Linked DNA regions of Homo sapiens. The protein of the gene in region 1 interacts with the protein of each later gene in a biochemical or structural test. Each region holds a gene or a part of one and is shown in the gene's direction. Other genes may lie near its edges.

Region 1 (3,812 bases):
AGGGAGCCTGCTAAGCTGGTACGACCAAGAGAAACGGGACCTACCATGGAGAAGACGGGTAGGCAGGCGAGGAGCAGGGACAGTGGGTGGGAGGCAGGCACCCAGCCCCCTCCACCCTAACTCCTCATCTGGGGTTGCATTGACAGGCAGAAGATGAGATGGACCTGGACAGGCGGGCATATGCTGGTCAGTACATCTCCTGAGAGCAGGGCCACTTTGCCTCGAGGCCCTTGGGTCTGGGGGCTGTGGGCCAGGTAGGGGCAGGTCAGCAGTGTCCTCATGCCAACCCCTTTCCCCCAGTGTGGGTCTCAGAGGTCATGCTGCAGCAGACCCAGGTTGCCACTGTGATCAACTACTATACCGGATGGATGCAGGTGACTCCAGGGGAGGAAGGGAAGGGTCATGGGTCAGACCCCAGATGAGAGCCTCTACTTTGGGGTGGGTGTAGAGAAGGCTTCCTCTACCACCTTCACCCTTGACCTTGTCTCTTTCTGCCTGCCTGTGGCTATAGAAGTGGCCTACACTGCAGGACCTGGCCAGTGCTTCCCTGGAGGTGAGAGCCACCCTAGGGTAGGGGAAATAGGAACAATAGAGGGACTGACGGGTGATCTCTTTGACCTCTGATCCTACCCACAGGAGGTGAATCAACTCTGGGCTGGCCTGGGCTACTATTCTCGTGGCCGGCGGCTGCAGGAGGGAGCTCGGAAGGTAAGGGGATGGCAGGAGGGTAGGAACCCAGGAGTCTTGGGTGTCTTATAATCTTGAGTCTTGCACTCCAATCAGGTGGTAGAGGAGCTAGGGGGCCACATGCCACGTACAGCAGAGACCCTGCAGCAGCTCCTGCCTGGCGTGGGGCGCTACACAGCTGGGGCCATTGCCTCTATCGCCTTTGGCCAGGTGATCTCACAGCCCACCCCCACTTTGTGCGTGCCCAGCCTCCTTCCTCCCAGCCCAGGCTAACTCTTTGGCCCCTCTGTGCCAGGCAACCGGTGTGGTGGATGGCAACGTAGCACGGGTGCTGTGCCGTGTCCGAGCCATTGGTGCTGATCCCAGCAGCACCCTTGTTTCCCAGCAGCTCTGGTAGGATGTTGGGGTAACAAGGGTGCTTCAGGGGTGTCTGCAAAGGAGCTCTGCTTCACAGCAGTGTTCCCTTCTTTTAGGGGTCTAGCCCAGCAGCTGGTGGACCCAGCCCGGCCAGGAGATTTCAACCAAGCAGCCATGGAGCTAGGGGCCACAGTGTGTACCCCACAGCGCCCACTGTGCAGCCAGTGCCCTGTGGAGAGCCTGTGCCGGGCACGCCAGAGAGTAAGCCTACTGGGGAAGGGGCAGTGAGAAGTCCTAAGGAGTGACTCTGCCCTATGACACTCAACCCTGTGCCTCTCAGGTGGAGCAGGAACAGCTCTTAGCCTCAGGGAGCCTGTCGGGCAGTCCTGACGTGGAGGAGTGTGGTGAGCACCAAACCTAGCCCCCACCCCAACCCTTCCTGGCCCAGTCAGAAGCCCCATTCCAGTTCTTCCTCTAACCTGAGTAAGATTCTGCAGAACCCGGCCAAAGCCCACTCTCTAGGTTGGCCCCTAAAGCCCTCTTGGCTTGAGTAGGGTTCGGGGATCTCCGTTCCCAGCTCCCAACACTGGACAGTGCCACCTGTGCCTGCCTCCCTCGGAGCCCTGGGACCAGACCCTGGGAGTGGTCAACTTCCCCAGAAAGGCCAGCCGCAAGCCCCCCAGGGAGGAGAGCTCTGCCACCTGTGTTCTGGAACAGCCTGGGGCCCTTGGGGCCCAAATTCTGCTGGTGCAGAGGCCCAACTCAGGTACCTGGATACTGGGCGTGGAGGGCAGTGGCATGAGTAACAAGAGAGAATGGAGGGAATCGGCAGCTGAGGCCTGACCCCTGCCTGGCTGCCCTCCCTCTCAGGTCTGCTGGCAGGACTGTGGGAGTTCCCGTCCGTGACCTGGGAGCCCTCAGAGCAGCTTCAGCGCAAGGCCCTGCTGCAGGAACTACAGCGTTGGGCTGGGCCCCTCCCAGCCACGCACCTCCGGCACCTTGGGGAGGTAAGTGAGCAGCGGAATAGCCAAGGATGTTGGCTTTTGAGGCTATATCCACAGGCCTATTTGAACCCCTTGACCCTTCCTCCAGGTTGTCCACACCTTCTCTCACATCAAGCTGACATATCAAGTATATGGGCTGGCCTTGGAAGGGCAGACCCCAGTGACCACCGTACCACCAGGTGCTCGCTGGCTGACGCAGGAGGAATTTCACACCGCAGCTGTTTCCACCGCCATGAAAAAGGCACTACCTTTGTTGTCTTTGTTGTACTTCCTTGTGTTTCCTACATGTTCTACATGAATATATTACTGTGTAAACAGGAAAAAAAGCATTTTTTTTTGAGACGGAGAATCGCTCTGTTGCCCAGGCTGGAGTGCAATGGCGCTATCTCGGTTGACTGCAACCTCCATCTCCCGGGTTCAAGTGATTCTCCTGCCTCAGCTTCCTGAGTAGCTCGGATTACAGGCGCCCGCCACCATGCCTGGCTAATTTTTGTATTTTTAGTAGAGATGAGGTTTCACCATGCTGGCCAGGCTGGTCTCCAACTCTTGACCTCAAGTGATCCGCCCGCCTCAGCCTCCCAGAATGCTGGGATTACAGGTGTGAGCTACCACACCCAGCCATGATTTTTTGTATTTTTAGAGATGGGGTTTCACCATGTTGGCCAGGCTGGTCTCAAACTCCTGGCCTCAAGTGATCCACCCGACTTGGCCTCCCAAAATGCTGGGATTATAGGCGTGAGCCACCATGCCTGGCCAAAAAAGCATATTTTAAACAAAAGTACTGGGACATGAAGTTAAGGGCAGAACACCGGTTTATCTCTTTTGCAAAAAGTGCCAGCCCTCACCTCCCTGTCTTCTTGTCTAGGTTTTCCGTGTGTATCAGGGCCAACAGCCAGGGACCTGTATGGTAAGTCTCCTAGGCCTCTCCCAACCGTGTCTCCCCAGGCCTGAGTCCATAGGTTTTTAGTCAGTTAACTAACGAATGTCTGGGTGAACATTCTCCACTCCAGGCTTCACTGGAGGGAGGAATAGTTCTTGACCTGGAGACCTTCCATTGTGGGGTGCAGGGTAGAGGGAAAGGAAAAAAATGATGAGGACTCTCCAGTGTCACAGGTGTGTGAAATGCCTGTACTGAGTTTTGTGGGATATGAATTGTGGAGCCATCAGTTCTTTTTTTTTTTTTTTTTTTTTTTTGAGACAGTCTCACTGTCACCCAAGCTAGAGTGCAGTGGCCCGATCTCGGCTCACTGCAATCTCCCACAACTGGATTAAAGCGATTCTCCTGCCTCAGTCTCCCAAGTAGCTGGGATTACAGGTGCCTGCTACCACACCCAACTAATTTTTGTATTTTTAGTAGAGACAGGGTTTCACCATGTTGACTAGGCTGGTCTCGAACTCCTGACCTCAAGTGATCTGCCCATCTTGGCCTCCCAAAGTGCTGGGATTACAGGCGTGAGCCACCACACCCATCCATGGGAGCTATCAGTTCTAATTGGGAGACGGATCAGGAAAGGCTGTTTGGAGGAAGCAGCTGGTAATCTTCGTCCTAGAAATGAATCCTTTTCTTCAGGTTTGGGAGGGGAATCAACCGTAGCGATGTTCTTTCCAGTCCCAAGAGTAGTGTGAGCAAAGGTGGAGCCCAGTGCAGGCTGCAGTGCTCAAGGAGCTGTGAGCAGTTGGTTTAGCTGGAAAGGTCAGCAGGGCCTGCTGGGTCAGTCAGGGTGTGAGCCCTAGGCTGCTGACTCATTTTAGGTGGAGGAGAGA
Region 2 (3,812 bases), on another chromosome or scaffold:
ATTCTCGGCTCACTGCAACCTCTGCCTCCCGGGTTCAAGCGATTCTCCTGTCTTAGCCTCCCTAGAAGCTGGGATTACAGGTGCCCACCACCACACCCTGCTAATTTTTGTATTTTTAGTAGAGACAGGGTTTCGCCATGTAGGCCAGGCTGGTCTTGAACTCCTGGCCTCGAGATCCACCCACCTTGGCCTCCCAGTATGCTGGGATCACAGGCTTGAGCCACTGTGCCTGGCCTAATACTTTGTGTAAATTCCATGAGGCCTGCAATCATGTCTGGGTTATTTTACTCTGCATTGTATCCCCAATACCTGGAGAAGTGCTGGCAAGTTTTAGGTGCTGAATAAATGCTTGCTAGTTGCATGAATGAATGAGGCAGTGGGAAGAAAGGGACAGGTGAATGGGGAAGAAAGGCAGCTTGGGGGAAAAACAGGAACAGGAAGAACTATTGTTGGACTCAAGTGAATATTTAAATAAATTAGGAATGTGTGAATGCTGAAACCGGGGAAGTGATTTTAAATTGTAGCTTTCATTTACTTTATAGCTGCTACCTTGTGTCTTTAAGACAAATTAAGAATGTTTCTAGGCCAGGCGCAGTGGCTCACGCCTGTAATCCCAGCATTTTGGGAAGCCAAGGCAGGCAGATCACCTGAGATTGGGAGTTTGAGACCAGCTTGGCCAACATGGAGAAACTCTGTCTCTATTAGAAATACAAAATTAGCCAGGTGTGGGGGCGCATGCCTGGAATCCCAGCTACTTGGGAGGCTGAGGCAGGAGAATCTCTTGAACCCGGGAGATAGAGGTTCCGGTAAGCCAAGATCGCACCATTGCACTCCAGCAACAAGAGCAAAACTCCATCTCAAAAGAAAAAAAGAAAAGAATGGTTCTTCACTTTTAAAAAGACTGATCATGGGCCAGGCGCAGTGGCTCATGCCTGTAATCTAAGCACTTTAGGAGGCCAAGGCAGGTGGATCACTTGAGGTCAGGAGTTCGAGATCAGCCTGGCCAACATGGGGAAACCCTGGTCTACTAAAAATACAAAATTAGCTGGGTGTGTTGGCGTGTGCCTGTAATCCCTGCTGCTTGAGAGCCTGAGGCAGGATAATTGCTTGAACCCGTGAGGCAGAGGTTGCAGTGAGCCGAGATTGCACCAGTGCATTCCAGACTGGGCGACAGAGTGAGACTGTCTCAAAAAAAAATAAAGAATGATCATGGAGATATTTAAATAATTTGATAAGTTTTTTTATTTTTTAGAGATGGGGTCTCACTCTGTTGCCCATGCTAGTCTCAAACTCCTGGGCTTAAGCGATCCTCTCGCCTCAGCTTCCCAAAGTGCTGTGATTATAGATGTGAGCCACTGCACCTGGCCATGTTTTTATATTCAAAATTTTATAAACCTATTTCCAGCGTAGGTGAAGTATTTTGTTCATAAATGAAGAATGAAAGTTTCACATGTGTTTGTGGTGATGGAATGAGTTGGAGAACCTTTGCTGACTTTCATTATCAGCTAAAGCAGGTATCATTTTCGTTCAAAAGACACAGGCCACAAAGGGTACGCAAATACCACACACATGTGAAGGCGTTTGGGCAAGAGTCACATGATAAAATAAGAGATGATGCATAGAACTCTTGTGGTCAACAGAATACATAGCATTTGTATCTTAATTATATAACGAAAGGGGAAGGGAACTAATGTTTTTGACTATTTCTAATGTGACAGATGCTTTAGTAGTCAGTACTTAAGTAACCCTAGAAGATAGCTATTATACTCCCATTTTACAGAGGAAGGAAGTACAGAGAGGTTGAATAATGTGTCCATGGGGTGAAGATTTGAACACATGTGCCCTTGAGTATTACATTTGTTGCTTTATATACTTACTAGGGATTTTTTTTTTAAAGGGTCTCACTCTGTTGCCCAGGCTGGGGTGCAGAAGCACAATCTCAGCTCACTGCAACCTTCACCTCCCAGGTTCAAGTGATTCTTTTGCCTCTGTCTCTCGATTACAGACGTGCGCCACCACGCCCAGCTAATTTTTGTATTTTTAGTAGAGATGAGGTTTCGTCATGTTGTCCAGGCTGGTCTTGAACCCCTGGCCTCAAGTGATCTGCCGCCTCGGCTTCCCCAAGTCCTGGGATTACAGACTTGAGCCATTGCACCTGGCCGTAATTTTTTTTAAATGACAGAGTCTTGTTCTTTGTCTCTCAGGCTGGAGTGCAGTGGCATGATCATAGCTCACTGCAACCTCCAACTCCTGGGCTCAAGTGATCCTTCCACCTCAACCTCTCCAGTAGCTGGGAGTACAGGTGCATGCCACCATGCCCAGCTAATTTTTTTTTTTTTTAATTTTGTGTAGAGATGGGGTTTCGCCATCTTGCCTAAGCTGGTCTCTAACTCTTGGTCTCCAAACAGTTCTCCTGCCTTGCCTCCCAAGTCTTTGGGATTATAGGCATGAGCCACTGTGCCTGGCCTTGTCCCTTAAAATGAGTTACATTTGTAAACAGCTGATTTCTTTGGAGCATCGTCCCCATATACTTTTCTTTCATAAGTGATCTCATCCTTCTTCCACCCAACCTTCCCCTTGAATTTGTTGTTTGTTGTTGTTTCCATTTTAGCAGAATTCATGTTGCTCTGATAGGGGCTCTTTTCAAACTGATGTCTTATCCTTCTTAGTACCTCAAACTAGGTCTTGTTCAGACATGTTATAACAAGTTAGTATGAGTTTATTTTAGTGCAAAAAAAATTTTTGAAATGCATGCATAGTTTTTTCATAATGCACATTTTTCGTGTACTTTTTGAATCCCCCTCATACATGCACGTGGTTTTAAAATCAAACGGAACAGAAAGGTGTTCATGGCCGGGCATGGTGGCTCACATGTGTACTCTCAGCACTTGGGGAGGCTAATGCAGGAGGATCCCTTGAGGCCAAGAAAGAGTTTGATACCAGGCTGGGCAACATAGCAAGATCCTGTCTCTATTTCATTTAGAAAGAAGAAAGAAAGAGGTGTTTAATGTAATTACTGACCTCCTGCCTTACCTTGTCCAGTACTGTTCCCCAGAATAACTGCTTTTTAGAAAAATCACTGTCATTGACATTTTGCTTACGTATAGTAAATTGCACCTTTTTTATTTATTTATTTATTTATTTGAGGCAGAGTTTCCTCCTGTCACCCTGGAGTGCAGTGGCGTGATCTCAGCTCACTGCAACCTCTGCCTCCCAGGTTCAAGCAGTTCTCATGCCTCAGTCTCCTTAGTAATTGGGGTTACAGGTGCACGCCACCACCTGGCTAATTTTTGTATTTTTAATAGTGATGGGGTTTCACTATGTTGGCCAGGCTGGTCTCGAACTCCTGACCTCAGATGCTCCTCCTGCCTTGGCCTTCCAAAGTGCTGGGATTACAGGCATAAGCCACCATGCCCGGCCAAATTGCACGTATTTTAAATGTACAGCTTGATGAACTTTGACAAATGTGCGCACCCCTGTAACCACATTGCCCCTGTGGAGATATAGAATACTTCCATCAACGCACAACTCCTCTTGCTCCTTCCCCACCTCCATCCTCACCCTAGGCAACCAGTGTTCTGGTTTCTACCTTTGTAGGTTAGTTTTGCCTTTCCTAAGACTTCATATAAATGGAATCAAATAATATCTATCCTTTTGTGTCTGGCTTCTTTCAGCAGTTTTTTTTTTTTCCCCAGAGGTAGGGTCTCTGTCACCCAGGCTGGAGTGCAGCGACACAGTCATGGCTCACTCCAGCCTTGACCTCCTGAACTCAAGAGATCCTCGCACCTCAGCCTCCTGAGTAGCTGGGACTA

The links.
Region 2: the proteins of MUTYH (region 1) and RPA1 form a complex in vitro, tested with the Homo sapiens proteins (one study listed by BioGRID).

Annotation. Positions count from the first base shown.
Region 1 is NC_000001.11:45,329,659-45,333,470, reverse strand, and holds part of MUTYH (adenine DNA glycosylase), read left to right. Parts: coding exon 1-58; intron 59-146; coding exon 147-186; intron 187-300; coding exon 301-374; intron 375-511; coding exon 512-553; intron 554-636; coding exon 637-708; intron 709-783; coding exon 784-897; intron 898-982; coding exon 983-1,080; intron 1,081-1,160; coding exon 1,161-1,305; intron 1,306-1,384; coding exon 1,385-1,448; intron 1,449-1,621; coding exon 1,622-1,810; intron 1,811-1,914; coding exon 1,915-2,051; intron 2,052-2,136; coding exon 2,137-2,289; intron 2,290-2,913; coding exon 2,914-2,955; intron 2,956-3,402; coding exon of another isoform or gene 3,403-3,405; exon of another isoform or gene 3,406-3,582; intron 3,583-3,812. UniProt on the Homo sapiens protein: Involved in oxidative DNA damage repair. Initiates repair of A*oxoG to C*G by removing the inappropriately paired adenine base from the DNA backbone. Possesses both adenine and 2-OH-A DNA glycosylase activities.
Region 2 is NC_000017.11:1,832,990-1,836,801, forward strand, and holds part of RPA1 (replication protein A 70 kDa DNA-binding subunit), read left to right. Parts: intron 1-3,812. UniProt on the Homo sapiens protein: As part of the heterotrimeric replication protein A complex (RPA/RP-A), binds and stabilizes single-stranded DNA intermediates that form during DNA replication or upon DNA stress.